Linked DNA regions of Homo sapiens. The protein of the gene in region 7 purifies or fractionates together with the protein of the main gene of each other region. This does not show direct contact. Each region holds a gene or a part of one and is shown on either strand. Other genes may lie near its edges.

The links.
Region 1: the proteins of SLC18A2 (region 7) and SLC25A24 purify together in Homo sapiens (co-immunoprecipitation; 2 studies listed by BioGRID and IntAct, with this or other methods). This does not show direct contact.
Region 2: the proteins of SLC18A2 (region 7) and MTFP1 purify together in Homo sapiens (co-immunoprecipitation; 2 studies listed by BioGRID and IntAct, with this or other methods). This does not show direct contact.
Region 3: the proteins of SLC18A2 (region 7) and APOOL purify together in Homo sapiens (affinity purification with mass spectrometry; one large-scale study listed by BioGRID and IntAct). This does not show direct contact.
Region 4: the proteins of SLC18A2 (region 7) and DNAAF5 purify together in Homo sapiens (co-immunoprecipitation; 2 studies listed by BioGRID and IntAct, with this or other methods). This does not show direct contact.
Region 5: the proteins of SLC18A2 (region 7) and HACD2 purify together in Homo sapiens (affinity purification with mass spectrometry; one large-scale study listed by BioGRID and IntAct). This does not show direct contact.
Region 6: the proteins of SLC18A2 (region 7) and MFSD8 purify together in Homo sapiens (affinity purification with mass spectrometry; one large-scale study listed by BioGRID and IntAct). This does not show direct contact.

Annotation. Positions count from the first base shown.
Region 1 is NC_000001.11:108,144,333-108,148,483, reverse strand, and holds part of SLC25A24 (mitochondrial adenyl nucleotide antiporter SLC25A24), read left to right. Parts: intron 1-97; coding exon 98-205; intron 206-4,151. UniProt on the Homo sapiens protein: Electroneutral antiporter that mediates the transport of adenyl nucleotides through the inner mitochondrial membrane. Originally identified as an ATP-magnesium/inorganic phosphate antiporter, it also acts as a broad specificity adenyl nucleotide antiporter.
Region 2 is NC_000022.11:30,424,257-30,428,917, reverse strand, and holds the start of MTFP1 (mitochondrial fission process protein 1), read right to left. Parts: upstream 3,151-4,661; 5' UTR 3,039-3,150; coding exon 2,972-3,038; intron 2,202-2,971; coding exon 2,074-2,201; intron 1,748-2,073; coding exon 1,515-1,747; intron 457-1,514; coding exon 384-456; coding exon of another isoform or gene 244-383; 3' UTR 1-243. UniProt on the Homo sapiens protein: Involved in the mitochondrial division probably by regulating membrane fission. Loss-of-function induces the release of cytochrome c, which activates the caspase cascade and leads to apoptosis.
Region 3 is NC_000023.11:85,090,706-85,094,295, forward strand, and holds the end of APOOL (MICOS complex subunit MIC27 precursor), read left to right. Parts: 3' UTR 1-1,685; coding exon of another isoform or gene 1,686-1,856; 3' UTR 1,857-2,479; coding exon of another isoform or gene 2,480-2,520; 3' UTR 2,521-2,610; downstream 2,611-3,590. Other genes in the region: SATL1 (spermidine/spermine N(1)-acetyltransferase-like protein 1), read right to left, coding at 1,686-1,856, 2,480-2,520, 3,423-3,524. UniProt on the Homo sapiens protein: Component of the MICOS complex, a large protein complex of the mitochondrial inner membrane that plays crucial roles in the maintenance of crista junctions, inner membrane architecture, and formation of contact sites to the outer membrane.
Region 4 is NC_000007.14:750,249-754,399, reverse strand, and holds part of DNAAF5 (dynein axonemal assembly factor 5), read right to left. Parts: intron 1-4,151. UniProt on the Homo sapiens protein: Cytoplasmic protein involved in the delivery of the dynein machinery to the motile cilium.
Region 5 is NC_000003.12:123,494,116-123,498,266, forward strand, and holds part of HACD2 (very-long-chain (3R)-3-hydroxyacyl-CoA dehydratase 2), read right to left. Parts: exon of another isoform or gene 856-4,151; coding exon 773-855; 3' UTR 1-772. UniProt on the Homo sapiens protein: Catalyzes the third of the very long-chain fatty acids (VLCFA) elongation four-step cycle (condensation, reduction, dehydration, and reduction).
Region 6 is NC_000004.12:127,944,468-127,948,618, reverse strand, and holds part of MFSD8 (major facilitator superfamily domain-containing protein 8), read left to right. Parts: intron 1-4,151. UniProt on the Homo sapiens protein: Outward-rectifying chloride channel involved in endolysosomal chloride homeostasis, membrane fusion and function. Conducts chloride currents up to hundreds of picoamperes.
Region 7 is NC_000010.11:117,250,704-117,254,854, reverse strand, and holds part of SLC18A2 (synaptic vesicular amine transporter), read right to left. Parts: intron 1,457-4,151; coding exon 1,398-1,456; intron 808-1,397; coding exon 724-807; intron 451-723; coding exon 358-450; intron 1-357. UniProt on the Homo sapiens protein: Electrogenic antiporter that exchanges one cationic monoamine with two intravesicular protons across the membrane of secretory and synaptic vesicles.

The DNA.
Region 1 (4,151 bases), on a different chromosome or scaffold from region 7:
TCACATGGGAGGTTACAGCTTCAACATATGAATTTGGTGGGGGTGCAGCTCAGTCCACAGCAGGTAGTAATGTGCATTTTAAAACTTGTTTATACAGTACAAGAAGTTACTTACTGAAGAAGGACAAAAAATAGGAACATTTGAGAGATTTATTTCTGGTTCCATGGCTGGAGCAACTGCACAGACTTTTATATATCCAATGGAGGTGAGTACCATTGTCAAGTCTGACTGTGTGATGGTGTTCGTGTTGGTTGTCTATTGCTCTCTAACAAGTTATCCCAAAATTAACAGTTTAAAACAAGCATTTATCATCGCACAGTTTCTCTGGGTCAGGAATCTGGAAGCAGCTTAGCTGGGTGCCTCTGGCTCAGGGTTTTTCACAGCCCACAGTCAAGATGGTAGTCAGAGCTTGGAATCAGCTGGAGGCGGATTCCAAGCTCACTCATGTTGCTGCCAGGCCTCACTGGCTATTGGCTGGAAACATCAGTTCCTTATCACGTGAGCCTTTCTGTAGGCTGCCTGAGTATCCTCAAAACACAGTAGCTGGCTTCCCTAGAGTCAGTGGTCCAACAGAGAGAGAGAGAGAGAGTGCCTAAGATGAAAGCTGGTATCTTTTGCCTCTTCTGCTGTATTCCATTGATCACACAGACCAACCCTGGTAGAGTGTAGGAGGGGCTGGTATAATGGTGTTAATAACCGGAGACAAATATCACTGGGGGTCACTTTAGAGGCTGGCTGCCACTTTAGAGGCTGGCTGCCATTCCTGTCCAAAGAGTTTCTGTACCATAAATTTAATAATGGAATCTCAGGATTTGATTATATGGTGATTATCCTAATTAGACATCCTTTCATTAGTGCATAGGTTGGCAAAACACAGACCTACGGACTGTTTCATACAGCCCTTGACCTAAGAATGCCTTTTACATTTTTAAAAAGTGGGCAACACAGGAAAAAGTGAGAAAGATCTAAAATCGACACCCTAAGATCACAATTAAAAGAACTAGAGAAGCAAGAGCAAACAAATTCAAAAGATAGCGGAAGACAAGAAGTAGCTAAGGTCAGAGCAGAACTGAAGGAGATAGAGACACGAAAAACCCTTCCAAAAATCATTGAATCCAGGAGCTGTTTTTATGAAAAGTTTAACAAAATAGACAACTAGCCAGAATAATAAAGAAGAAAACAGAGGAGAATCAAATAGACACAATAAAAAATGATAAAGGGGATATCACCACCAATCCCACAGAAATGCAAACTACCATCAGGGAATACTATAAACACCTCTATGCAAATAAACTAGAAAATCTAGAAGAAATGGATAAATTCCTGGACACATACACGCTCCCAAGACTAAATCAGGAAGAAGCTGAATCCCTGTATAGACCAATAACATGTTCTGAAATTGAGGCAGTAATTAATAGCCTACCAACCAAAAAAAACCCAGGACCAGACAGATTCATAGCCGAATTCTACCAGAGGTACAAAGAGGAGCTGATGCCATTCCTTCTGAAATTATTCAAACAATAGAAAAAGAGAGATTCCTCCCTAACTCATTTTATGAGGGCAGCATCATTCTGATACTAAAACCTGGCAGAGACACAACCAAAATAGAAAATTTCAGGCCAATATCCCTGATGAACATCAATGTGAAAATCCTCAATAAAATACTGGCAAACTGAATGCAGCAGGACATCCAAAAGTTTATCCACCATGATCAAGTTGGCTTCATCCCTGGGATGCAAGGCTGTTCAACATATGCAAATCAATATAACGGAATTCATCAATAAACAGAACCAGTGACAAAAACCGCATGATTATCTCAATAGATGCAGAAAAGGCCTTCGATAAAATTCAACACCACTTCATGTTAAAAACTCTCACTAAACTAGTTATTGATGGAATGTATAACAAAATAATAAGAGCTGTTTATGACAAACCCACAGCCAATATCATACTGAATGGGCAAAAGCTGGAAGCATTCCCTTTGAAAACCGGCACAAGACAAGGATGTCCTCTGTCAGCACTCCTATTCAACGTAGTATTGGAAGTTCTGGCCAAGGCAATCAGGCAGGAGAAAGAAATAAAGCGTATTCAGATAGGAAAAGAGGAAGTCAAATTGTCTCTGTTTGCAGTTGACATGATTGTATATTTAGAAAACCTCCTTGTCTCAGCCCCAAATCTCCTTAAGCTGATAAGCAACTTAAAGCAAAGTCTCAGGGTACAAAATCAATGTGCAAAAATCACTAGCATTCCTATTAACCAATAATACACAAACAGAGAGCCAAATCACGAGTGAACTCCCATCCACAATTGCTACAAAGAGAATAAAATACCTCGGAATACAACTTACAAGGGATGTGAAGGACCTGTTCAAGGAGAACTACAAACCACTCCTCAAGGAAATAAGAGAGGACACAAACAAATGGAAAAACATTTCATGCTCATGGATAGGAAGAATCAATATCATATCATAGGAAGAATCAGTGGCCATACTGCCCAAAGTAATTTATAGATTCAATGATATCCCCATCAAGCTAACATTGAATTTCTTCACAGAAATAGAAAAAACTACCTTAAATTTCATATGAAACTAAAAAAGAGCCTGTATAGCCAAGACAATCCTAAGCAAAATGAACGAAGCTGGAGGCATCACGCTACCTGACTTCAAACATACTACAAGGCTACAGTAACCAAAACAGCATGGTACTGGTACCAAACAGATATATAGACCAATGGAACAGAACAGAGGCCTCAGAAATAACACCACACGTCTACAACCATCTGATCTTTGACAAAAACAAGCAATGGGGAAAGGATTCCTTATTTAATGTATGGTGTTGGGAAAACTGGCTAGCCATATGCAGAAAACTGAAACTGGACCCCTTCCTTACACCTTATAAAAAAAAAATTAACTCAAGATAGATTAAAGTCTTAAACATAGACTTAAACTATAAAATCCCTAGAAAAAAACCGAGGCAATACCATTCAGGACACAGGCATGGACAAAGACTTCATGACTGAATCACAAAAGCAATGGCAACAAAAGCCAAAATTGACAAATGGGATCTAATTAAACTAAAGATCTTCTGCACAGCAAAAGAAACTATCATCAGAGTGAACCGGCAACCTACAGAATGGGAGAAAAATTTTGCAATCTATCCATCTGACAAAGGGCTAATATCCAGAATCTATAAGGAACTTAAGCAAATTTACAAGAAAAAAAAACCCACCAAAAAGTGGGTGACGGATATGAACAGACACTTCTCATAAGAAGACATTTATGCAGCCAACAAACGTGAGAAAAGGCTCATCATCCCTGGTTGTTAGAGAAATGCAAATCAAAACCACAATGGCATACCATCTCACGCCAGTTAGTTAAAAAGTCAGGAAACAACAGATGCTGGCAAATATGTGGAGAAATAGGAATGCTTTTACACTGTTGGTGGGAGTGTAAATTAGTTCAAGCATTGTGGAAGACAGTGTGGCAATTCCTCAAGGATCTAGAACCAGAAATACCGTTTGACCCAGCAATCCCATTACTGGTTATATACTCAAAGGATTATAGATTTTTCTACTATAAAGACACATGCACACGTATATTTATTGCAGCACTGTTCACAATAGCAAAGACTTGGAACCAACCCAAATGCCCATCAGTGATAGACTAGATAAACAAAATATGGCACATATACACCATGGAATACTATGCAGCCATAAACAAGGATGAGTTCATGTCCTTTGTAGGGACATGGATGAAGCTGGAAGCCATCATTCTCAGCAACCTAACACAGGAACAGAAAACCAAACACCACATGTTCTCACTCATAAGTTGGAGTTGAACAATGAGAATACATGGACACAGGGAGGGGAACATCACACACTGGGGCCTTTTTGGGGATGAGGGGCTAGGGGAGGAATAGCATTAGAAGAAATACCTAATGTAGGTGACAGGTTGATGGGTGCAGCAAACCACCATGGCACGTGTATACCTATGTAACAAACCTGCACGTTCTGCACATGTATCCCAGAACTTAAAGTACAATTTTTAAAAAGTAGGCAAAAACAAAAGAAAAGAAAAGTAATATACAACCGAGACCTAATATTTTAGGCTTGCAACGACAGATATTTTACTATTTAGTCTTTACAGGAAAAGT
Region 2 (4,661 bases), on a different chromosome or scaffold from region 7:
CTGTCAAGCACCTGGGGGTCCTGGGTGCCCAGCTTGCCAAGTGATCTTGGGCCTATTCCTTGCCCTCCCTGAGCCTCAGTCTCTCATCCTCCATGGGAGGATGTAATTTTCCTGAAAAAGACAGGGCCGGGCCCACCCAGGGTCCACTTCCACTCAGCATCTTGGATTCCAGGGAAGCAGACAGCGTTCAGGTCCTGCCCTTCTGTGACTCCCTGCAGCCACTGCTTCTTGAAGCCTTTGTCTCTAAGCTTCTGTCCAGCTCAAACCCACCCAGGTGCCAGGGTCTTTGGACACCAGGGAGCCAGGTGTCCACATTCCCTGGCAGGAGTAGGAGGTTGACATGAAGCAGGAGGCCGATGCACAGGCCAGGTACCAGAGTATGATCAGGAGGAGCTGGGCTTCCCCACTGTTGGGTAGAGCTTGCGCAGGCTGGAGTCCAGGAGGAAATCCACCGACCTGTAGGGAGTGGAAGGGTGGTGAGCAGGTGACCAAGGGTGTTCATGAGGGAACAGAAGGCAGAAGGCCAGGGTTAGGGAAAGGGGCGCTTAGATGCAGGATACAAATGCCATCCAGCCAGAGACCCACCCTTATCCTGATCCTTCCACCTTGGGCTACCTGGGGAAGCTAGAATCAAACTCCCAGAATAGAAGCCATCCTCTTCTTTATTCAGGAGGAAACTGAGGTACTGGGTAAAAGACTTGCTCAGGGCCTCAGGGTCAGCTATCTTCTCCTGGAGAAAGACTGCTCCTCTCACTCTTACATTGGTCTGGTTGGGTTGAGCCCATATCTAGTTCTAAGACCAAGCACGTGACCCAAGCCTGGCCAATCAGCAAAGGGAAACTGGCTCATAGGGTGGGCATGCAGTCCAGAATGGACCAATGACACCCTTCCTTGGGATTTTTGTTGTTACTGTTTAAAAGCTTCTGCTGGGGGAGGCTAAGCTGGTGGGATAGAACTTGGGAGCTGCTAGGGCCATTTCTACTCCCACAAGGAGAAAGCAGGTGAAGCCAGCAAGAAATAGGGTGGGGTGGGGAGAAAGGCAGCAGGATGGGGAGACCCAGACCCCTAATGACATAATTTGGGTACCTAGATCTAGCCATGCCTGAATGCAACACAGCCCTGGACTTTTACTCCATTTTATTCAAATATTCAGTTTGAGTTAGGCTTCTGTCACCAATACCTCCCAAAATGCATCCCCTCTAGGGTGCACCTGCTCCTGCTTCTCTCTGGTTGTTTTGTAACACTAGACTTTCTTTCTGGGAATTTACTTGTCCTGTGTCCCATACCCTCAACGCACCCCTCTTCTTTTATTGCTAAAGTGCCTGCCATACCATATGACAAGGGTACAGGCTGTCCTTTCTAACCCAGGAGCCAAGTGCCAGCCTTGTCCCTGCTATTGCTCCAGCAAAGTGGGCATACCCCACACTTCACAGAGTCTAGCTCTACCTGGAGACTGGATGATCCACTCTCATCACTGGAGAGTGGATGATCCCTGAGGCCAAGAAGGTACCCACCTGTCAATGGGGTGGATAATGATGGGGATGGTCAACAGCCCAAGCGCGGTGGTGGTCCACTTGCGGACAGCCAGGGGCCAGCGGGTGGCAGTGCCCAGGACATAGAGAGAGGCAGCACACACGCGGTTGATGGTGAAGCCCGGAATGGCCACAGAGGCTAGAGCCTGCCATACAAAGGTGTCCACCACAGCCACAGTCACCCTGGCGCTGCGGCCTGCTTCAGGGCTGGGCACCTGGTGGGCGCAGAGACACTTAATCCAGCTGGGGCAGAGGCAGAAAATCCTGCGACAAGGGGCACGAGGCTAGACCGGGAGGGGCAAGTGGCCAGTGGACTTGTCCGCACCCAGGAGTGGGGTACAGTCTGCCACATCCAGTTCGGGGAGTGGGAGTGTGGGGGCAGGGGTACACTGTCCTACAAACAGGACTGTCTATGGACTGCACTAGGCAAGGTTGTAGGGACTGGAGTGTCCCACAGGGACTTTATCACATGCAAGGCTGTGGACTGAACCACACAAGAAGAGAGCTAGGGTTGGGGGTTGGAAAATAGGCTAACACTCACCTCTCCAGCCTTCTTGCCTTTGTCAATGGCATCCGCCAGCACGTAGGAGCTGGCCACGCCATAGCTCAGCCACACCACCGCCGCTGGCACAAGAGAGCGGAAAGCCTCGCCCACCTCATTGGCATAGCCTGGGGGAGGGAACATTTAATTCCTAGGCTCGCAACTGTTCCACGAGGGGGCGTTGGAGCAGGCTGGTTCTCATCCTAGCCAGCTAAGCAGTCCCTGGGTGACCTTAGGCAAGTGACTTGACCTCTCTGAGCCTCCCTTTCCGAGATGTAAACTGGTGCCATGATGCCCACCTCGGACTCGGGCCACTGAGGGCGGACTGAGCACTGAGTCACTGTTACCATTGCTTATTGGTTAGATTTCCTGGTCTTGGTCCCAGGAGTAACTGCACTAATGAGGTGACAGGCACCCAGAGGGGCAGAGTGATCGAGGGCAGCGCCACTGACCAGACGCTCGCCAAGTGCCAGGGCTTTCTGCGCTTTATCCCATTCCACCCTCGCAACCACCACCCAATGAGAGAGGCCCTCGTGTGTATCTCGTTTGTTTTTTGTTTTGTTTTTGTTTTTTTGCCGAGGAGGAAACTGAGGTTCAGACAGAGCCAGTGCGTGTCAGGACCGAAATGGGAGTGGAGATCCCGACTCCACAGCCAGCCAGAGCGCATGCCAGAGCGGGCAGCCCGCTCACCCCATGGGAGCTTCCGCCCTGGGCGACCCACCAGGGTAGTGTGACCTTGGGCAAGTCCCTAGCCCTGTCTGAGCCCAGTCTCCGGCCCAAAAGCAGAATGAGAACTAAGATCATCCCGCCTCCTCCAGGCCCCGGGCGGGCGTCCGGCGACCCCTGCTTCTCCAGCCCAGTGGTGGTGGGGTCGCCGCGCCCGTCGCCCCGCGCTCACCCAGGTATCGCACCCACGTGTCCCGGTAGAGATCGCGCTCTGCGCCCCGCGGCTGCGGCTCTGACATGACTCTCCCGCCACGGCCCCGGCCACTACAGCCGGTACTGGCTCCACTGCAGTCTCCGCCGCCGGCACTTGGGTCTGCCCGGCCGGGACCCGCCGAAAGTCCCGCGCCGAAGGACAGGTCAGGAAATCTCCGCCAGCAGGGAGCGTCTGCAAATTCCCCCCGCGCACCGAAGCCCCTCTCCCAGGCTCGGGTTTTACAGACTGGTTTTCGTCACGTTTTCTCTGAGCTGTTGGCGCTAATCGCTCCCAGGACTGAGTGTAGGTTTTGGAGCCAAAGAGACAGGGGATCAAGTTGGGGGATGCTACACTGCAAAGCTTGTGACCTCGGGCTTATCCAGCATCTCTTTATTCATTTGTAAAAACGAGGGAGGGACACAGGCTGGGCCCGTTGGCTCACGCCTGTGATCCCAGCACTTTGGGAGGCCGGAGGCGGGAAGATCTCTTGAGCCCAAGGGTTCGAGAACAGCCTGGACAACATAGCGAGACCTCGTCTCTACTAAAAAAAAAAAAAAAAAATTAATGTAATAAATAAAATGGGGAACACAATAGTGTCCACTCCCTAGGATGGTTCCGAGGATTAATTATAACAGTCACCATTTATTGAGTTTATTGCCAGTCTACATGTTCGCTAAAGGACTCTCCATGTCTTACACCTGAAACCCTCCCACCAGCCTGGGAGCCCGTTTTACAGGTGAGAAAATGGAGGCACAGAGAAGGTGGGTCATTTTCCCAGAACACACAGCTGCTAAGTGGTGAAGTTGTGATTTGAATCCAAACAGTGTGGATCCAGATCCCGTGCTCTTAATGCGAGCTCTAAATGAGGCTAGAGGAGTGAACGGTGAGCCCCTGGGAGGTAGGTGCCTGGACTCTGGAGTCCCTTCTCAGCAGTCGCCATGTATAACTAGGAAGCACTCGCATTTAACTGGATCAGTATGTCCCCAGACTGAGCTTCTTGGGGACAGGATGTTGGATGAATTAATTAACGAATGAATGAATCGGGCAAGGGAGACAGAGTTGGGGTTAGTGATTACAACAGGAGGAAGCCTTCCCCCGCTGGACCTCAGTTCACCCAGGTGAGCAATGTGTGCACTTCACTAAGTCTCTGTGACTCCTTGGCGGGTATAATTGAGCGGCGTTGGAGACAATCCTGGGTTCAAATCCTAGCTGTGCCGCCTACTGGCTGTTAGCCTCCCTGAGCCCCAGTTCCCACGTCTGCAAAAAAAATGAGAGTAGCCAACATTGACGAGCACTTACTTATACCAAGCTCTTAAGCGCTTTGCACGGCTTATTTCCTTTAATCTTTGCAACAACCCAAAGTGTAATAGTAAGCACAGGGTTTTTGCGTGATACCCGGTAGGCCTTATTAAGAATTAGCTCTTATTTTCATCAAAGGTAGAGAAAATGAGTAACTATTGAGGCCCCCGCTGGCTCCCTACGGAGGCCCCCGCTTTCAGCCCTAGGCGCCTCTGTCTTGTAGGGCTGTATAGGACAGTCCGGTCAGCAGTTACCTCAAGCTGAGCTGGGCTTGTAGGTTGGGGAGGGTGGTGGGTGGGAGAAAAGTTGATGGGGAACGCAGCGGTTCCCACCCCCTGAAACACCGGCAATGCTGGCGTGGAATTATTAG
Region 3 (3,590 bases), on a different chromosome or scaffold from region 7:
TTAGAATGTTCTTCCATCTTATCCTGCTCTACATTCTAACTTCTACCCATCCTACAAGTCCAATTCCAGTGTCATGTTCCCTTTCTCAATCCTCCAGGGTAGAATTTAGATGTTCTGTCTTTTAGAGATAGGTATTGCTATGTTGCCCAGGCTGGTCTCAAACTCATGGCCTCAAGCGATCCTCCCACCTCAGCCAACCAGACATGAGTGACTGTGCTCAGCCTTTTTTAAAAAAATGAAGGTATTTGGTATGGCCGGGTATGGTGGCTCACACCTATAATCCCAGCACTTTGGGAGGCCAAGGTGGGTGAATCACCTGAGGTCAGGAGTTTGAGACCAGCCTGACCAACATAGTGAAACCCTGTCTCTACTAAAAACACGCAAAAAGTGCAAAATTAGCTAGGCGTGGTGGCTCATGCCTGTAATTCCAGCTACTTGGGAGGCTGAGGCAGGAGAATCACTTGAATCCGGGAGGTGGAGGCTGCAGTGAGCCGAGATCGTGCCATTGCACTTCAGCCTGGGCACAAGAACAAAACTCAGTCTCAAAAAATAAATAATAAAAAATAAAGGTATATAATATGTCTTAGATTTGATGAAATATGAGTGTGTTTGAGATCTGATCCAAGGTTTTAAAAAATTCATTTCAAATCCTGGAGATAAATTCTGAGGAGCTTACTTATGAAAAACTAGCAAGTGATAGCTGGTATTTACAGATATGGTACTTTACACAATTTATGTAATTAATATTTTCTCACAGACAAGGTTCCTTGTGGATATCACTGAATAATTTTTGTGTAGTTTCTATGCCCATGAAGTGCCTGGTAGGTAGTAGGAACTCACACGTTCTGCTATGCTGGTTGCAGCACAGGACACAAAAGTTAGAATTATTTCAAAGGACTTATACTCTACTAGGAAAGAGAGAAACATAGAAATATAGTGTTGTATGTGGTATCTTCCCTAAGATAAGTACAACCAAAGAGCTATGGATGTTCAGAGATAGAATGTAGTACTGGGATGATGTCAAGGAGGCAGTGGTACTTAAGCTGCTCAAGGTAGGGAAGCAGTTTACTTGCTAGTTTTTCATAAGTAAGCTCTTCAGAATTTATCTCCAGTATTTGAAATGAATTTTTTTAAACCTCAGATCTGAATATATTCAAACACCCATATTTCATCAAATCTAAGGCATATCATATACCTTTAATTTAAAAAAAAATGCTGAGCAGAGTTGCTTATGTCTGGGAGGCTGAAGTGGGAGGATTGCTTGAGGCCAAAAGTTTGAGACCAGCCTGAGCAACATAGCAAGATCCTGCCTCTAAAAACAAACAAACAAAAAATGCTGCCAGTTGATCATTACATTTATCCCGACATCAGATATGTCAAATTGTGAAAAGCACCTTAATTTTGATGAAATATGATAGGTAAAAAATAGCGCAAAGCTAAGTATAAGTGACTTTTAAATTATCTGCTCTTTTGGATTATCACTACTGCTACTAGCCGTTAGAATATTGGTTTGGATAATGGAAAGTTGACTAGAGCTACAAAATCTGTTTCAAAATAAAAGATCTGCTCAAACAAGAATGTGATGATCACTTGCTGTATTGTACAACAAAGTCAAACTGCTGTTAGACTCAGGTGACAGTCAAATGTTGGAGGCTGTGTTGGGATGAGTTGTTACAAAGCCTCTTTCATTCTTCCCATGCCATGTCCAGGAGTTCTTCTCTGTTAAACCTGAAGAGATGCCAGCCCTCCTCAGAGGAAAGGTCTAAAGCCCCTCGACTAGTATAGTAGTTGATAGAAGCCTGGTTCCAAATGACGACAAGAAAGTGCATGCAGTTACATTGAGTTGTGATGGCTATCTGTTTAAAAACAAACAAGCAAATATTACTTTCATTTGAAAGTATAATCTTCGTTAACACATATATTTTATTGAAGGTCTACTCTATGCAAGACACTATGTGTGAATAATACTTCCAAATATAGTAGTTACCTTTTGAACTTTTCTATAGCTGTAAAAAGAAAAAAGTCTCACTGTTCTGAGCTTTAAAGCCCTCTTTAAAATCTCAAAACTGATTTGCAAAGCCTTTATCATACAGAAAAGGTGTACCTAAAAGAACACATGTTCTCATATGTTTCCAAAATACAAGAAGATCTTGCTTTTATAGTCTTGTAATATTCATACTGTGAGCCTGTGTTTTTGAATAAAAATGCTTTCTAATCTCCCTCCTTCTTACTTTCCCTTGATAGCAAAAAGGGTGTATAGTGTGGTTGTGGATTATATATAAATCAATTTTAATTGACTATAATTCATATACTGTATATGATCATCTGATTTGAAAATCCAGTTTAATTTGGGTAGAAATTTGAAGTATATGTTGGGGTTATGTTCAAATGGTGAGATTAATGATTTAATTTATGCCCTGTGAATATTTATTAAGAAAAGGTTAATGTATAGAATATCAATACTAATTGTAATACATACCTGACTTAGCCTCTTCAGCATTTCAGCTCCAATACCTAGGCCTTTTAAATAGACAATGCAAAGTGAAAACTGCAAATTTCACTTAACTTGTTATTTGCTTTAGTTTAAAATAAATAATATCTAAAACTCTGTATCTGTTTTTTGTATATTATTAATAGCTTCTGGAAACACAACTCGTGAATGCTTTCATATCCCTTTTTCCTAATTGGAATGACGTACCAAAGGTCATAGAAGAGTTTGGGTTTATTTTAAAGATCAGTGAAGAAGTGAGTCTCTGCCACTATTGTCTTATAACGGTATATTTCTTAGCTGTTTTTACTGAAAACCACCTAAAATGTGAAAGCATTTTTTAAAGATAAAAGTATAGCTGTGTGGCCTATACTCACACGATGGCTCACACATGTGATGGCACGATGGCTCACACCTGTAATCCCAGCACTTTGGGAGGCCAAGGCAGGAGGATCACTTGAGCCCAGGAGTTTGAGACCAGCCTGGGCAACACAGACCCTGTTTCTCCAAAAAATAAAGAATTAGCTGGGTGCTGTGGCACATGCCTGTAGCCCCAGCTACTTGGGAGGCTGAGGTGGGAGGATTGCTTGAGTGTAGGAGGTTGAGGTTACAATGAGTCGTGATCACACCACTGCATTCTAGCCTGGGTGACAGAAAACCCTGTCTCAAAAACAAAATAAAAAAATATATAGCCATGTGATAGCTTGGCTTATTCAAACCTTGAGAGGAACTAATAAAATGTTTTTCTAATCTGTGACTGAGTCTTCACAATCACAGATTAGATCAAACTCATTAGGATAGTGATCAAACTCATTAAGTAGCAATAAGTTACATTAACTAAAACACCGTATGTATAGTAAAGCCCTATCTCCTTAAAATATGTCACTTTAATTTTTAAAGTATTTAAAAGTAATATCATAAATTTTAGTTTTACCTTGGTAAGCTTGTGTGACATAAAAGTCCTCTAGGTAAAGTACCTTGCCAGTCCATGAGTCGTATGTAAAGTAGTACATGGCAAATCCAACAGTCAGTTTGCCTAGGAAGGGAGAAGAAAGGGTGTAGAAAGGTTGGTTGAATCTTAGCCAGTTCTTTACCCCCAAAT
Region 4 (4,151 bases), on a different chromosome or scaffold from region 7:
CAGTCCTAGCCCTGTGGAGGCCAAGGCAGGTGGATCACTAGAGCCCAGGAAGTCAAGACCAGCCTGGGCAACATGGCAAAGACCCCATCTCTATAAAAAACAGGAAGATTAGCCAGGTGCCGTGGTGCATGCCTGTGGTCCCAGCTACGCAGGAGTCTGAGGTGGGAGGATTGCGCCACAGCACTCCAGCCTGGGTGACAGAGCGAGACCCTGTCTCAAAAAACAAACATTTAGAGCCACACAGAGATGCAAACAACACACTTGCCACACGTGCTGACGTGTATGATCAGAGAGACACGCCTGCGAAGCCGTCCCCCTATGATCAGAGAGACACACGCCTGCGAAGCCATCGCCATATGATGAGAGACACGCCTGCGAAGCCGTCCCCCTATGATCAGAGAGACACACGCCTGCGAAGCCATCGCCATATGATGAGAGAGACACGCCTGCGAAGCCGTCCCCATATGATCAGAGAGACACACGCCTGCGAAGCCATCGCCATATGATGAGAGAGAGACGCCTGCGAAGCCGTCGCCATATGATCAGAGAGACACGCCTGCGAAGCCATCCCCATATGATGAGAGAGACACGCCTGCGAAGCCATCGCCATATGATGAGAGAGACACGCCTGCGAAGCCGTCGCCATATGATCAGAGAGACACGCCTGCGAAGCCGTCCCCATATGAGAGAGACACGCCTGCGAAGCCGTCCCCATATGATCAGAGAGACAAGCCTGCGAAGCCATCGCCATATGATGACAGAGATACGCCTGTGAAGCCGTCCCCATATGATGAGAGACACGTCTGTGAAGCCGTCCCCATATGATCAGAGAGACATGCCTTCGAAGCCATCGCCATATGAGAGACACGGCTGCGAAGCCATCGGCATGGTGGGGGTGACAGCTGCGTCCTTCGCCCGGCTTCCTCTGCTCCTCTGCACTGCAGCCCCCAAGGCACCCCGGCACCCCTGGATCTGTCCCGTGACTGAGCTGCACTTTCTAGAGCCTGACACAAGTGGAAGCCTCTCGTTCACTCTCCTCCCTTCTCCGCTTCTTTCACTCTGCATCGTTTTCTGAGGCCCGCCTGTGCCCGCTCCTTTCTGAACCTGGGAAGTGGCCTGTTCTGGGGAGATGCCAGTTTAGTGCCCGCTCCTCTGTGGAGAAGCATTCAAATGGTGTCCAGGGCAAGTCTGTGTGGCCTGGGCTTTCACTGTGCCGGGACAAATACCAGCTGTGGAAGGGCTGGGCCACAGGGAAGGTGCACGTTTAACTGTTTTAGAAACTGTCCAACCATTTTCCAAAGTGTTTGAGCCAGTCCGCGCTCCTTCCCACTCTCAGCGGCACGCGGTACGCTCAGTCTTGAATTGAAAGCAGTCCGAGAGGCACAGTGGCATTTCCGTGTGCTTTTCCTTTGCATTCCCCGATGACTAACGACGCCGAGCGTCTTCTTCACAGGCTTGTTTGCCGCCTATCTTCCCTGGTAAAGGGTCTTTCCAAATTGTTTTCTGCCCATTTAAAAAAATGGATTGTTTTCCTGCTGAGTTTCAAGAGCTCTTCCTATACTCTGGAGATAAATCCTTACATACATCATCTCCAAACATCTCAGTCTTTGGTTTGTCTTTTCGTTTTTTCAACAGGCCTTTGAAAAAGCAGAAGTGTTCATTTTGATGAAGTCCACACATTGCTTTACCCTGTTACAGAGCGGTCTTTTGAGGACGCACCCAGGGAAGCGTGGCCCGGCCCACGGTCACGAAGCCTTCGTCCTAGCTCTGCGGTCTTTTGAGGATGCACCCAGGGAAGCGTGGCCTGGCCCGCGGTCACGAAGGCTTCGTCGTCACTCTGCAGTCTTTTGAGGATGCACCCAGGGAAGCGTGGCCCGGCCCGCGGTGACAAAGGCTTCGTCATCACTCTGTGGTCTTTTGAGGACGTATCCCGCGAAGTGTGGCCCGGCCCGTGGTCACGAAGGCTTCGTCGTCACTCTGCAGTCTTTTGAGGATGCACCCAGGGAAGCGTGGCCCGGCCCGCGGTGACAAAGGCTTCGTCATCACTCTGCGGTCTTTTGAGGACGTATCCCACGAAGTGTGGCCCGGCCCACTGTCACAAAGGCTTCGCCCTAGCTCTGCGGTTCTGGGCTTTACCTTCAGATCCCTGACGCATCTGGGGTTAATTTTTTGACTCCAAGTTCACTTTCTGGTGTATGAGTGATCCTATCATTTACAGTATCCTTATTAAAAGATGCCATTAAATGGTCTTTGAGCCTTCATCAAGTCAGTGGTCCGCGTGCGGGCGCCTGTTTCTGGACGCTCTCGTTCTGCTCATCGGTCTGAAAGCCAACACCACGTGGCCCCATGACTGTGGTTTTGTGAGTCTTGCACCCAGGACCTGCTGCCATTCAGCTTCACTCCTCCCCAGTGTTTCGGCAGCTGTGGGTCCTTTGCACGCCCACGAGAATTTCACAATCAGTTTGTCGATTTCTACAGAAAAGCCTTCAGGGACTTTGATGAAAAGATTCTGATCTTCAAAATTCAGGCCGGGCACGGTGGCTCATGCCTGTAATCCCAGCACTTTGCGAGGCCAAGGCAGGCGGGTCACCTGAGGTCAGGAGTTCAAGACCACCCTGACTAACATGGTGAAACCCCGTCTCTACTAAAAATAGAAAAAATAAGCCGGTCGTGCTGGCGAGCGCCTGTAATCCCAGCTACTCAGAGGCTGAGGCAGCAGAATCACTTGAACCCAGGAGGTGGGGGTTGCAGTGAGCCAAGATTACACCACTGCACTCCAGCCTGGGCGACAGAGTGAGACTCCATCTCAAAAAAAAAAAAAAAAAAAAATTCAGAACAACTGTAAAGATAGAAATGAAACCATGATATGTCAGGATTTAAAGGGTCTTTTTCTATTTTTAGAGAAAGGGTCTCACTCTGTCACCCAGGCTGGAGTGCAGTGGTACGATCACAGCTCACTGCAGCACTGACCTTCTGGGCTTAAGTAACCCTCCTGCCTCGGCCTCTCAAAGTGCTAAGATTACAGGTGTGAGCCACTGCATCCAGGCTAAAGGGTATGTTTTAATAAGAACAGCTTGTACCAGGACACCCCATTTTTAACCTTTTTCTGGTTATTTTTCTGTTTTTATCCTGTATTATGGAATTAGTTCCAAATAATTAAAATTCTGCTGGCTGTTTAAATGATCCTGTCATCATTTTGTAAAAAACAAAAAAGCCAGGGTGCAAACACACCTCTCTTCGTTTTTTTTTGAAATGCAGTCTCGCTCTGTCATCCAGGCTGGAGTGCAATGGTGCGATCTCAGCTCACTGCAACCTTCACCTCCTGAGTTCAGGCAATTCTCCATTCTCATGTCTCAGCCTCCTGAGTAGCTGGTACTACAGGTGCATGCCACCACACCTGGCTAAGTTTTGTATTTTTAGTAGAGATGGGGTTTCACCATGTTGGCCAGCCTGGTCTTGAACTCTTGACCTCAGTATTACAGGCATGCGCCACCACGCCCAGCTGCACCTTTCTTCCTGATGACGATCCGCTCTGGAAAGTTTGCAAAATGAGAGATGCGTGACCAGGAACAGCCGGGGAGGGGTCTGCTGACAGCTGAACAGAGCTTTGTGGGCACCTGGGCTTCTGGGTGTTTCCAAAGAAATACTGGCCGGTGCTGGGCAGGGGTACGCAAGGCCTGGACACAGGCTGGGACTGGTTTAAGGCCTGTTAGGAACTGGGCCCCACAGCAGGAGGTGAGCAGATGGTGAAGGAGTGTGACCGCCTGAGCTCCACCTCCTGTCAGATCAGTGGCGGCATGAGATTCTCAGGGGAGGGCAAACCCTCCTGTGAACTGTGCGTGTGAGGGACCTGGGTTACGTGCTCCTTATGAGAATTGAATGCCTCATGATCTGAGGTAGAACAATTTCAACCTGAAACCACCCTGCTCCCTGCCCCACCCATGGAAAAATTGTCTTCCACAAAACCAGTCCCTGGTGCCAAAATGGCAGGGGACCGCTGGTACAGTCAAGCGTTGCTGAACGGTGGGGGGTGCGTTCTGGGAAACACGTCATTGGGTGATTTCGTTGCCGTGTGAACGTACTACAGTGACGTACACAAGCCTAGATGGCGCAGCCTCCTACGTGCCTGGCTGTGCGATGCCTGGGCTGTG
Region 5 (4,151 bases), on a different chromosome or scaffold from region 7:
AGCTATTGAGCTCCCCCTTTCTGAGACCTGTCATTTTGTTAAGACATGATTGAGGCTGAGCTCCAGATAAGATATATTCTTTACGGTACACACATACTTATTAGATTCAAGCACGTTTCTTAGTGGCAGGCAGTAATGACTCAATTGGAAACAAACAAAAGGGTTCTAAGTTGTTTTCTGATTACAGGCACTACCCCGAAGCTTCATAGACATATACATTTTATAATTCATTCATTAGATGTGAGGGGATAGGTCCCAGCCATAACTTCAGAGCATTCCAGAGAACAGAGTTTGCCGCTTCAAAAATACAAAGTTTCCAGCATGCAGTCAAGCACTTTGACAAGGGAATGCTAAACACACTGCAGACTGAAACATAACTATACTGCAAGCTGGGCTATTCAGCTGGTACGACTTCATTATTCAGACTGTAACTCTCAAGTACTTAGTGTTACAGGTCTTCATTGATCAGATACATGAAGGACACAGAAGGACATAAAATGCCAAATCCCTTTCTAGTGCCATCATAAATATTAAGAACTTCTGGTTGAAAGAGCATGCTGAAATGAACTGGCCAGGGTGTTTTATGTAACAACCTTTTTCTAAAATAAAATCTCAGGCCCATGTGACACTGGATTTTTGTTTTAGTTTTGTTTGAATATTTTAAAAATAGTTCTTACTTATTTTCTATGAAACGTATTGGGAACTCAAAAAATCTGCAGCATTTTTTGATCATTGAAAAGTTTGTTTTGGTGGGAGGTGCAGAAAGCAGGAACTATTCAAATTTCTTGTGTTCTTCAGTATGAGAAAGGATCTTTCTTCTCTGGTGTATCATGTGGAAGTATAACTGGGGAAAAACTGAAAAGAAAAGAAAAATTGGTTAAGAGGATGGTTTAAAATTGCATATGCTCTATTTAAAGCATATGAAGTTGAGGTCCTCTCTGACCCTCTGACTAATTTCTCATCCAGCAACCAAGGAAGGTAACAAAGTGGGCTTGGGGAAAGGAAGAAAAAACACAGAGAGACTTACCTCCTTTCTTTTCCTGCTTTAGCTGAGGGAAGAAGTGGTGTGGAATACAATGACAGACACTATTGTCACTATCATGACCTATATCGATGCCACAGAACAGCCAAATAATATTCTGTACGCTCATTCATGTATTATCTCCACATTTATTCTGATTAACTTCACAACAACCAGGTGAAGAATTCTAGTGATGAAGTTATTATTCCTATTTCAAAGAGGAAGAATTTGAGCCCCAGAGAGGGTAAGCAACTTGCCTAGGGTCTCACAGTAAGCCACAGACAGAGTTGGGACCAGGCTCTTGGCTCCTGACCCTCAGCCTAGCCCCATATGGTCCCAGGGCAGGTGATTCTTTGGGAAGAGCAACCTCTCTTGGGAAGTAGTTTCGGGTAAAGACTTGAGGAGGAGGAGGAATGCCACAACATTTGCTTTGAACACAACTAAGCCAGGTTTGGATGTTAAAAAAAAAAAAAAAAGGCCTTATGAAAAGCAAGCCAGTGTCTTAGGCACTGGGGATTCTTCTGTTCTTGGTCATTTTGTAGAATACTTTAGAAAGCACTGGTTCTCAAATGAATGGGATAGTACTGCCTCCCTCGGAACTATTTGGAACTATTTCGATAGTTTGACTATTTGGAAATAAGGGAGAAAGGGAAAGGTTACTGGCATTTGGCATATGAGACCAGGGATGCTAAAACATGCCATAATGCATGACAGTACCCACTACTAAGAAGTATCCCACCCAAAATGCCTATAGTGTCCCTGCTAGGAAATACCACTTTGAGCCACCTGGCCTTCACAAGGTTACTGTGTGTAAACAACTCCAGGTAAAATGCTCTTTGTTGTACAATATCCTTCCTCTCCTCATCTCTCCAACAGCTCCAATCTCTATTTTATTGTTATTATTTTTTTAGACAGAGTCTTACTTTGTCACCCAGGCTGGTATGCAGTGGTGTGATCTTGGCTCATGGTCTGGACCTCCTGGGCTCAGTCAATCCTCCCCACTCAGCCTCCTGAGTAGCTGGGACTACAGGTGCACACCACTTCACACCCAACTAATTTGAATTTTTTGTAGAGATGAGATCTCCTACGTTGCCCAGGCTTGTCTGGAACCCCTGGGGTCAAGGGGTGTGCCCGCCTCAGCCTCCCAAAGTGCTAGGACTATAGGCATGAGCTACCAAGCCCAGCCCAGTCTCTCTTTTTTATACTGTCACGAATATTTTTTGGAAGATAATTTCTACTACTCCCAACTCTCTCCTGACAAGTTTCTTCCTTTTTAAATGGGTTCCAAGCTGGCCAGATTTCAAATGATCCTCCCAAAGTACGCCGGGACACCAGTGCGTGTGTGACAAAGATCTGCTAACCTGCAGAGGAGGCAGCACGTGGAACAGGGCTGCCATCCACGCCATTGCTACTGCCAGGCAGGACGTCGTTCACAGAAAAGACCCCACTTAAGCATATAATTCGACAGGCAGAGAACTATTTTGGCACGAAAGCCAGAAAATCTGACAAGCTCTATAATCTAAAAACTGGAAGTAAAGATATAATTAAACCATTAGGAATGTTAATGGTAATCATTTAAAAATGTGGGGCCAGTCCCATTTCTATAGATTTACTGTAATGAAGGGAATCTGTGAGCTGGGCATGCACAAGACCTTCCCACTGGTTGCATTTGTGTTCACACAACCCCATAGTGGGTGGCTGCAGTCTCACAGCTGGTTCAGAGGGCCCGGGGAAGGAGAATGACCTGGAAGTCATGCATTAAGCCCTTGGTGGCAGTTCAAGGAAGAAGATGGCCACGCAGACCTTCATTTCCATGGGCAGGGCCTGCCACCTATCAGAAGGGTCAGATGATGGCACTTTCACTCCTTTACATCTCCCAGAGATTCCTCAGTACCCAGAGAAAGGAATGTGGATGGGAGGCCAAGGGCCTAGGGTGTCTGGCCTATTCTCCACAGTTCAGGCAGTGGCTTCTGGCTGACCAGAACTATGATTCTGTCTCCATCTGAATCACCTACATGTTCAGACTGAACCCGACCATGAGACTGAAAGCTTTTCAGATGCACGGCTGCCACTTTTAACAACATGAGCTACACTGAGGAATAGCACTGAAAAAACCCCTCAACCCGACAACAGGCTATTGAGAATTCCACCTTCTGCTGTCCCAATTCAGGGAACACAGAATGGGGACACTGCTGGGCACGTGTGTGTGACAGTCCCTGTGTGTTGGGGACGAGGGGGGTGTGGGTGCTGCTGGGCCCTCCTTTCTTTAAGAAGATGGCCAGCCCTCTTGGGGCTCTCTTCCCCTCTGGGGAGAGAACTGTGGAGGACGACAGCACCAGATATGCTCTCTGCCTGGGCCAAGTCTCCTTGGTTTCTCTAAAAATCAGAGGTGTGGTTACAGTCACTGACAACCTGGAAAGCGCCAGCTTCTCCAGGTCCTCACCCCTCATCAATGTATCTTGCCCTTTTTTGGCTCCCTCCACCATAACCAATTTTCACCAATTTGGGGGTGGAATGTAAACAGGCCTTAGACATCTACTGAGTCCTGCAGGGACTGTGTTGTACTAATCCTGTATATATTGCAACTACAGCAGAACAGGAGAGGAGCACCTGGCCAGGGCACCCCAATATGAGGAAACTCCTGGGGTCAAGCCTCATGAGCCACAATTTAGGCTATGTGTGCAACAACGCAACAACAGATGAGGCCCATGAAAAGGAGGTGTTACTTTATATAATACATGTGTATCATCAACTTGCCACTAAAGATTAAAAGAACGCTACCTTGTTTAGAAAGAAAACCAAATTTGGTAAAGGAGACTGCATGTCAACAGCAACCTCTCCTAATTCTGCATTTTCTTCTGATAAATACAAAGCTTTGGAAAGTTGGAAATGTGCAGCTGGCCAGAATGAACTGTACACTCTGGCCTCAACAGTAACAACCTGAACCACTGAGAACATCCAGAGCTGCTGGCTCAGGCCACAGCACAGTGAGGCCAGCAGGCACCAGGGTGACTCGCATCAGGAGAGGTAGTCTGTGTGCCATCTTGAACCTGGGTGAGGAGTCAATGGTTTGCAGGGAATCTTTTAATCATTATTTGAGATCCACCCTTTTCTCCGGTCTACAAGAGGT
Region 6 (4,151 bases), on a different chromosome or scaffold from region 7:
AGCAACCTCAATTCTTGCCTCCTGAAAGAAATAATTCAAGTAAAGGACATAATGCAGAAGGAGAAACTGAGGCAAGTTGTAGAGCAGGAGTTAAAATTTATTAAAAAGCTTTAGAGCAAGAATGAAAGGAAGGAAAAGAAGGAAAGTACACTTGGAAGAGGGCCAAGTGGGCAACTTGAAAGACAAGCCTGCGGTTTGACCTTTTGACTTGGGATTTCATACACTGGCATAATTTTGGGGTCTTGCATTACTTCTCCCCACTCACCCCACCCCTGAGATCGTATCAGGAAGCTGCTAATTACCAGGTGTTTTCTATTTATTAGGAGGCTGCCTTTTCCTAGCACTAGCTGTGACCAATAATTACTTTAGAGAGCGTTAACAACCGCCTGACCATCACCTAACAGTCTCTCCACACTCCCCATGTGAGGGGCAGGGGAGACCTCTCCTGCCCTGTTCATACCCAACTAGCTACCTAATGTAACACAGTCACTTCTTAAAGGTCCTACCTTTCAATATTTTAATAATATTAATTTAAATATTAATTTCCAAAAAATGAAATTTGGGGGACACATTCAAACCATGGCACCACCTCTTAGCTTCTGTGACATTTCTCTATCCTGGCTTTCCTCTTAACTCTAATGACTTATTCTTAAATTCTTTTGTGTATTCTTCCTTATCAGTTTATCCCTTGTTGGTTTTTCTATGAGGTTGGAGAGAGAGTGTGTGTGTGTGTGTGTGTGTGTGTGTGTGTGTGTTCACACGTGCATATGTGTGTTTTATCCTAGATTCTGAACTTTGTCCCATATTAGATGTATAGCCAACAATTTATTAGATAAATCCATGGTACTTGGATGAACCCAGGCTCCTCAGGTCTTTACACATTTGTCTCCCTTTTTACTGGAATGCTTTTCCTCTCTCCATCTTTCTTTTGCTCTCCCCTTTCTCCTTCCTCACTGTCTTTTATTCACTCTTCAAGGTTTTGCTCCAGTGTCACCTCCTCTGGAAAGCCTTCTCTCTCTCTCTGTTTTTTTTTTTTTTTTTGCAATGGAGTCTTGCTCTGTTGCCCTGGCTGGCATGCAGTGGCGTGATCTTGGTGCGCTGCAATCTCTGCCTTAAGGGTTCAAGCGATTCTCCTGCCTCAGTCTCCCAAGTAGCTGGGACTACAGACGCCAGCTACCACACCCGGCTAATTTTTGTATTTTTAGTAGAGACGGGGTTTCACCATACCGGCCAGGCTGATCTCTACCTGACCTCAGGTGGTCCACCCACCTCGGCCTCCCAAAGTGCTGGGATTTCCACCTCCTGGGTTCAAGCGATTCACATGCCTCAGCCTTCCAAGTAGCTGGGATTACAGGCACCCGCCACCATTCCTGGCTAATTTTTATAATTTTAGTAGAAGTGGGTTTTCGGCATGTTGGCTAGGCTGATCTCGAACGCCTGACCTCAGGTGATCCTGCCTCAGCCTCCCCAGTTGCTGGGGTTACAGATGTGAGCCACTGCACCTGGCCTGGAAAGGCTTCTCTCACTGTCCCTCACAACAATTTGGGTCAGAAGCTTTTCCTGTATACTCCCGTTTCCCTTTATCATTAGCCCTTAATATGGAGTGTCCTAACACTGTATTTACAGAGAGTTTACTTAACTCCCCTACTAGATTGTCTAGATTGTTAGGATTGTTTTTTTTTTTAATTTTTGTGGTTTTTTTTGTAAATGGAGTCTCGCTCTGTCACCCAGGCTCGAGGTCAGTGATGCAATCTTGGCTCACTGCAGCCTCCACCTCCAAGGTTCAAGTGATTCTCCTGCCTCAGCCTCCCAAGTAGCTGGGATTACAGTCGTGCACCACCACGCCCAGCTAATTTTTGTATTTTTAGTAGAGACAGGGTTTCACTGTGTTGACCAGGCTGGTCTCAAACTCCTGACCTTGGGTGACCCACCACCTCAGCCTCTCAAAGTGCTGGCATTACAAGTGTGAGCCACCATGCCCAGCCCAGTTTTTACGAATTTCTACTTTTTGAAAATGCTCTCCTAAAATATATTTTTAAAGGAATATAAGAAGAAAAGAAATACAAATTTTACTTTTTACTGGTTTAGTGCCATATTTTCATTGCTATTTTGAAAATAATATTACATGAAATTATTACCCATTACACTAAAAATTCTTTCCATGCTGGTAGTCATTGGAATTGGCACAATTCTGGAGCAACGTCTTCTCTACTAAAAAGATATTTTCATGTATCAAAATTCTTAATTTCTTGGCATTTAGTCTTTTTAGTCAAAATTCTCAAAAGAAGGATATTAGTAGTGATTAGGTCTACTCAGCATACTATGTTGAGTTTTGAAAAGTACTCTCTTTTCTCCAGATATTTTGAAAACTCTTTAAAGAGTCTTGCTATCAGGCCCAGTGCTGTGACTCACGTGCCTGTAATCCCAGCGCTTTGGGAGGCCAAGTTGGGAGGATTGCTTGAGCCCAAGAGTTCAAGACCAGCCTGGGTAACGATATAAGACCTCGTCTCTACAAAAAAATTTAAAAAGTTATCTGGGTATGGTGGTGCTACTCCCTGTAGTCCCAGCTGCTTGGGAGCCTGAGTTGGGAGGATTTCTTGAGCAAAGGAGTTTGAGGTTACAGTGAGCCAAGATTATGCCACTGTATTCTGGCCTGGGTGACAGAGCCAGACCCTGTCTCAGAAAAAAAAAAAAAAAAAAGTTTTGCTTTCAAACCACTACACATTTAACATTAAAATTGAGTTTTCATTGCTTTTTTGAAAATTAAAATTTTATGTAACATGAAATTATTATTTTCTATTTTAGTAGAGATGACAAATGAAGCTAAAGGTAATACAGGAAGAAAATGAAAACCAGAGTACCTAAAATGAAAGATATTTTAACGGCTAGAACTTTAAATATTATGTATCATTATACTTTTGCATATTATTTCTTATTTTTTTCATAAAGAAAAACGCACCTAAATATTTTCACTTTAAATATCTTTAGGGAATTACCAGGCACGGTGGCTCACACCAACAATCCCAGCACTTTGGGAGGCCAAGGCAGGCAGCTCACCTGAGGTCAGGAGTTAAGAGATCAGCCTGGCCAACATGGTGAAACCGCGTCGCTACTAAAAAAAATATAAAAATTAGCTGTGCCCACGTGGTGGCACATGCCTGTAATCTCAGCTACTTGGGAGGCTGAGGCAGGAGAATCGCTTGAACCTGGGAGGTAGAGGTTGTAGTGACCTGAGATCGCACCATTGCACCCCAGCCTGGGCAACAAGATCAAAACTCCGTCTCAAAAGTAAATAAATAAATAAAATAAAATAAATAAATAAATATCTTTAGGGAACAAAAGGTCATAGTTTTCCTTATTAAATTGTTCTACCACTTATCTATATTTGTTTAAATTTATTTCCTAAAATTTAATAAAAGCCATTAAATAGGAAGATTAGAGATAGAATCTTCCTATGTTGCCCAGACTGGAGTGCAGTGGCTTTTCACAGGTACAGTCATAGTGTGTTACAGCCTCCAACTCCTGGGCTCAAGGGATCCTTCTACTCTAGACTGCTGAGTAGCTGAGATTACAGGCATGGGCCACTTCGCCTGGCTTAGCCTACCACATATGAAAAAAAGTAATCTGGCTGAGTGCGGTGGCTCATGCCACTAATCCCAATATTTTGGGAGGCCAAGGTGGGAGAATTCCTCCCTCCCGCGGCAGGAGGATTGCTTTGAGAGTTGGAGGCGGGAAGTTCAAGACCAGCCTGGGCAACATAGGGAGACCCTGTCTCTACAAAAATAAAAAAATTAGGTGGGCATGGTGGTGCATACCTGTAGTCCTGGCTACTCAAGAGGCTGAGGCAGGAGGATCACTTGGGCCTCAAAGGTCGAGGCTGCACTGAGCCGTGATCGGACCACTGCGCTCCAGCCTGGATGTCAGAGTGAGACCCTGTCTCAAAAAAAAAATAAAAATAAAAATAAACAATAGTGCCTTTTCTAAGCTAACATTTTCTATTTTTCTGAAAGTATTTTATTTTCTGAGTTGTAGTCATTTGGTTCTCCCCTTAAGTTCATCATGATATGTAAACCCTTTTAAAGTGGTAGAATACTGAGTGGTCTATATAGAACGGAAGAATTTATAACAGGTTTATTGAGATAATTGTCTAT
Region 7 (4,151 bases):
AAGTCAGCCAGGGCAGCTGGGGGAGGCAGACCCAGAAAGCAAGGTTCTCCGTGATCACAACTCACTGAATGTTCCCGAGGAAAGGGTCTGGCAGACCATCCTGTTCAACCTTTGGTTTTCCATCTGGGCCCAGGGAGGTTTGGGGCAGAGGCAGGGGAAGTCCTGATCCCCTCCACCCCCAGCTCAGGGCTCTTCCTACCATTTTTCAAAGTCTCCATGAAAGCAGGAAAGGAAAAAAATAAAAAGGGGACCTCTGTGTCAGTGCAAACTGCGCCAGGGTCACTGGGCGAGGACTGCCGCTGTCCAGCACCAGGCAGGCCCCTCTTGCCAGTTTGCCTACACGGGGGCCTTACCCACCTAAGACCCCCATGGCCAGGCCTCCCAAGGCGATTCCCATGACGTTGCCTCTCTCTTCATCATCTGTGTAGACACTGGCAAGCATGCCCATCCCTACACAGGGAAAGAAATAGTCAACAGGCCAGCTCCGGGGAACAGCAAAAGAATAATGCGTGACTCGCCTTCCCTCTCCAGCCAGCCTTGTGATCTTCCCAAACCTGTCAGATTCACTAAAATGTAAGACCAAGCAGAACCCAAGAGGAAAGTGGGTGCCTTCTCCAAGAATCCCCAGCACCCCAACCACCACCAATACCTGAATTCCCTGAATGAGTCCAGCTCACTCTGCAAGGGGCCCCTCACGAACTCACTCAGGCATTCCACACCTACCAGCCACAGAGGAGCAGGACGAGCCGATGCCCTGCAGCGACCTGGCAATCAGCAGGAAGGCATAGCTGCTGGAGAAGGCAAACACTGCCGAGAGAGGGGGTCCAAGACCGCACATCAGTGCTGCTGGGACACAACCGTCCCAAACAGGAACGTTTCAGAAGCCCCCCTTAACCCAGTGGAGCATTTGCATGTTAGCCACCCTGTGCTTTTGTTCCGTAAAAAGCTATCAATTCCTTTCTGCAATTGTTGCCAATACACAAACCTCCCAGGCCATATACTTTTTTTTGAGATGGAGTCTTGCTCTGTCGCCCAGGCTGCAGTGCAGTGGTGCAATCTCGGCTTACTGCAACCTCCGTCTTCCAGGTTCAAGTGATTCTCCTGCCTCAGCCTCCCCAGTAGCTGGGACTATAGGTGCATGCCACCACACCTGGCTACCTTTTGTATTTTTAGTAGAGACGGGGTTTTGCCATGTTGGCCAGGTTGGTCTCGGACTCCTGACCTCAGATGATCCGCCCACCTCAGCCTCCCAAAGTGCTCGGATTACAGGCATGAGCCAACCACGACCCCCCCCGCCCCCCCGCCGTCCTTAGGTTGTATTGTTAATTCCCGGCTCATGGGCATCAATGCCCACCCTGATGAGACCCACACTCAGAAGGAAAACACCACACACTTACTAATTGTTGAGACAAACATGATGCAGAATCCCGCAAATATGGGAATTGGATAGCCAATTCTGCAAAACACAAACATCAGACAAATCTGGTGACTGCAGGCTATTTTTTTAAGGCTTTATATTGATTTTCGCCTGGCTACCCTTTGGGATCAGACAGATAAGTGTTTGGTGGACTTTTCTGAAAATTCATATACTCAGTGCTTCCTATGTGACCTTTTTGTGTTTGACTGTCTTGGAACGTGAATACATTTATGGACTGCCACTGTGAACAGAAATTTGTTTGGAATAAATGTTAACACAATATTGGCAAGTAACCCAGAACACATCCAAAATACACGGCCCCTATTTCTGTCATTTTTAAAAAATGATTCCTTTAATTATAGTCTTTGCTAAAGCTCTCCCAAAGGAGCCACTGCAATCAAATGATTCGGGTAAAAGGCCATCAAGTGATTCCACTGGCAGACTGCAGTATGTCTAAGAGGCATTAGGAAGCAAGATGTTAAGATCTGCCTTCCTGTTGACCCCATGAGGCCAACCCAGAAAGACAAAGTCTCATTTTCTGTGCAAAATTTCAAAATCCAAATTGCTCCGTGAGACCACTGCTCACCTAGGACTCTGGCGCCAGGTCAACAGGGCTGGTGGAAAGACCCTGGCATTCCCCTATGCCATGTCTGGCTGGACACATGACCCTGCCACTTAATCTAGGGAGGTCTCCTCTCAGTCCCTCGGAGAGACCACCGCCCACCTCCCAGGACTGGAGTACAGAAAGAGATATGGATGTTAAACTGTTAACACCAGTGCCTAGAGCATAGAAGGTGCCTAAGAAATGTCATCTCCTCCCTCATTCTCTTTCTTCTTTGTCCTCTGTTTCTGCTGGATTAAGTAGACAGCTGGGTCCCTGCTCTGTGGGTGGGGCATGAGGGTACAGGCAGCTTCCCAGCCCCTCTGCCTTGAGAGGAAGCCAACAGTGGCTGAGCTCTTGCCCAATTGAAGGTTTGCTCCAACCCAGAAGAGCCTGAAACATCTCTAAGTCTCTTCTGTCTCTAGCTCTGGACCCTCAGGAACCTGGAGAGGAATGAAATGAATCCAGGAAGGCAGAAGGGCCAAGCATCCTGAGCTCTGGCAACAGCCTGGAAGGGTTCTTCCATTCCAGGCTTTAATAAAAAATTGTAATCGGCTGAGCATGATGGCTCATGCCTGTAATCCTGGCACTTTGGGAGGCCGAGGTGGGCGGATCACCTGAGCTCAGGAGTTCAAGACCAGCCTGGGCAACATGGCAAAACCCTGTCTGTACTAAAAAAAAAAAAAAAAAAAAAAAAAAAAATACAAAAAATGAGTCAGGCATAGTAGTGCACACCTGTAATCCCAACTACTTGGGAGGCTGAGGCACGAGAATTGCTTAAACCTAGAAGGCAGAGGATGTAGTGCGCTGAGATCATGCCACTGCACTCCAGCCTGGGTGACAGAGCGAGATTCTGTCTCAAAAGTAAATAAATAAATAAAAAATAATCATAGCGCCTTCATTTAAAGTTTACACTCAGTTCTCCAAGCATTTACACCCACCAGATTTAGTCATGATTTAATAAGGGCCCTATTTCACCTCCCTATGTTACAGATGAGGAAACTGAGGCATGATATCTGTCATTACTTATCAGATGTCATCAGACTAATTTCGCCTGGGCCATTCCCACATGGCTTTTCCTTGTAAATTTTACCACCTCCGCCAGTACCCAAACGGCATATATAGCTTTAAATAGAATCTTTCCAAAAGTTCTCTTGACCATATTCAAATATTTTTTAACTGCTTCACCTGTATCCAGAAACCAAATACCAAAAATACAGAGAGTAACTCACAAGCATGACAGATTCCCAGACAGTCAGTCCCCTCCCACAAACCATGCAAAGATTCCCCTGCTGTGAACAGAGATGAGCTTGTAATTCACAAAGTGGGGCCCCAAGCAAATTGGGTAAACCAGAGAAGATGCCAGGATTCTGACCTGCAGTTCAGATGGCCATCGGGTGACAGCTTCTTCTGTCTCAGCCCACCCAGAGCTGATTCTCTGTACCCCTTATTCATGTGGACAAAAGAAACCCAACACCGGGGGCTCACACGGCACTGCAGGATACTGAATCAGGAAACGTCCAGGAGGCTCAGAGAGGAGAACTCACAGGCAATTTATTTTCAGCAACTACAGTTTGTCCCATGAAAGAACGGGCATATGACAATCTTCCGGGCTGTCCTGGAATAAACACAGGCTTCTCCCTCTGTTCAATATATATTTGGAAAATCTAGTTGTTGAAGTACCAATACGTATCAAAGCTATTGGAATTAGGGGCTTCACTCTTGTTTCACCAGTTCTTCATTTTGGCTATTTATAAGGCTCTAATATGGAACCCTTCAGGCTGCAGGGACATCCCTGAAGGCAAATAAGACATCTGTGGCCCTTTCCCAGACTGTAGGCAGAAACACTGGGTGGTTTCAGGACAAAACTCAATAAAATGTGGCAACCCTTGTCTGTGGCCCCCAAACCACCAGCCATACTGTGCCCACTGTTCAGTCCAGCCAGTATTCCAGGTAACCCATCAGGGCACAGCTGTGGTGGGCTGGAAGCCACTGAGGTCCCTCCCTACCTGAAGACTCAGACATTCCCACGACTGTAGGCAGGGAACCAGCATGCTGGGTGGCCTGAGATTCCAAGGGAGGGTAGCTGGTTTTATCCATTTTTCAGAGGATCAACACTGAGGCTCGGGGAGG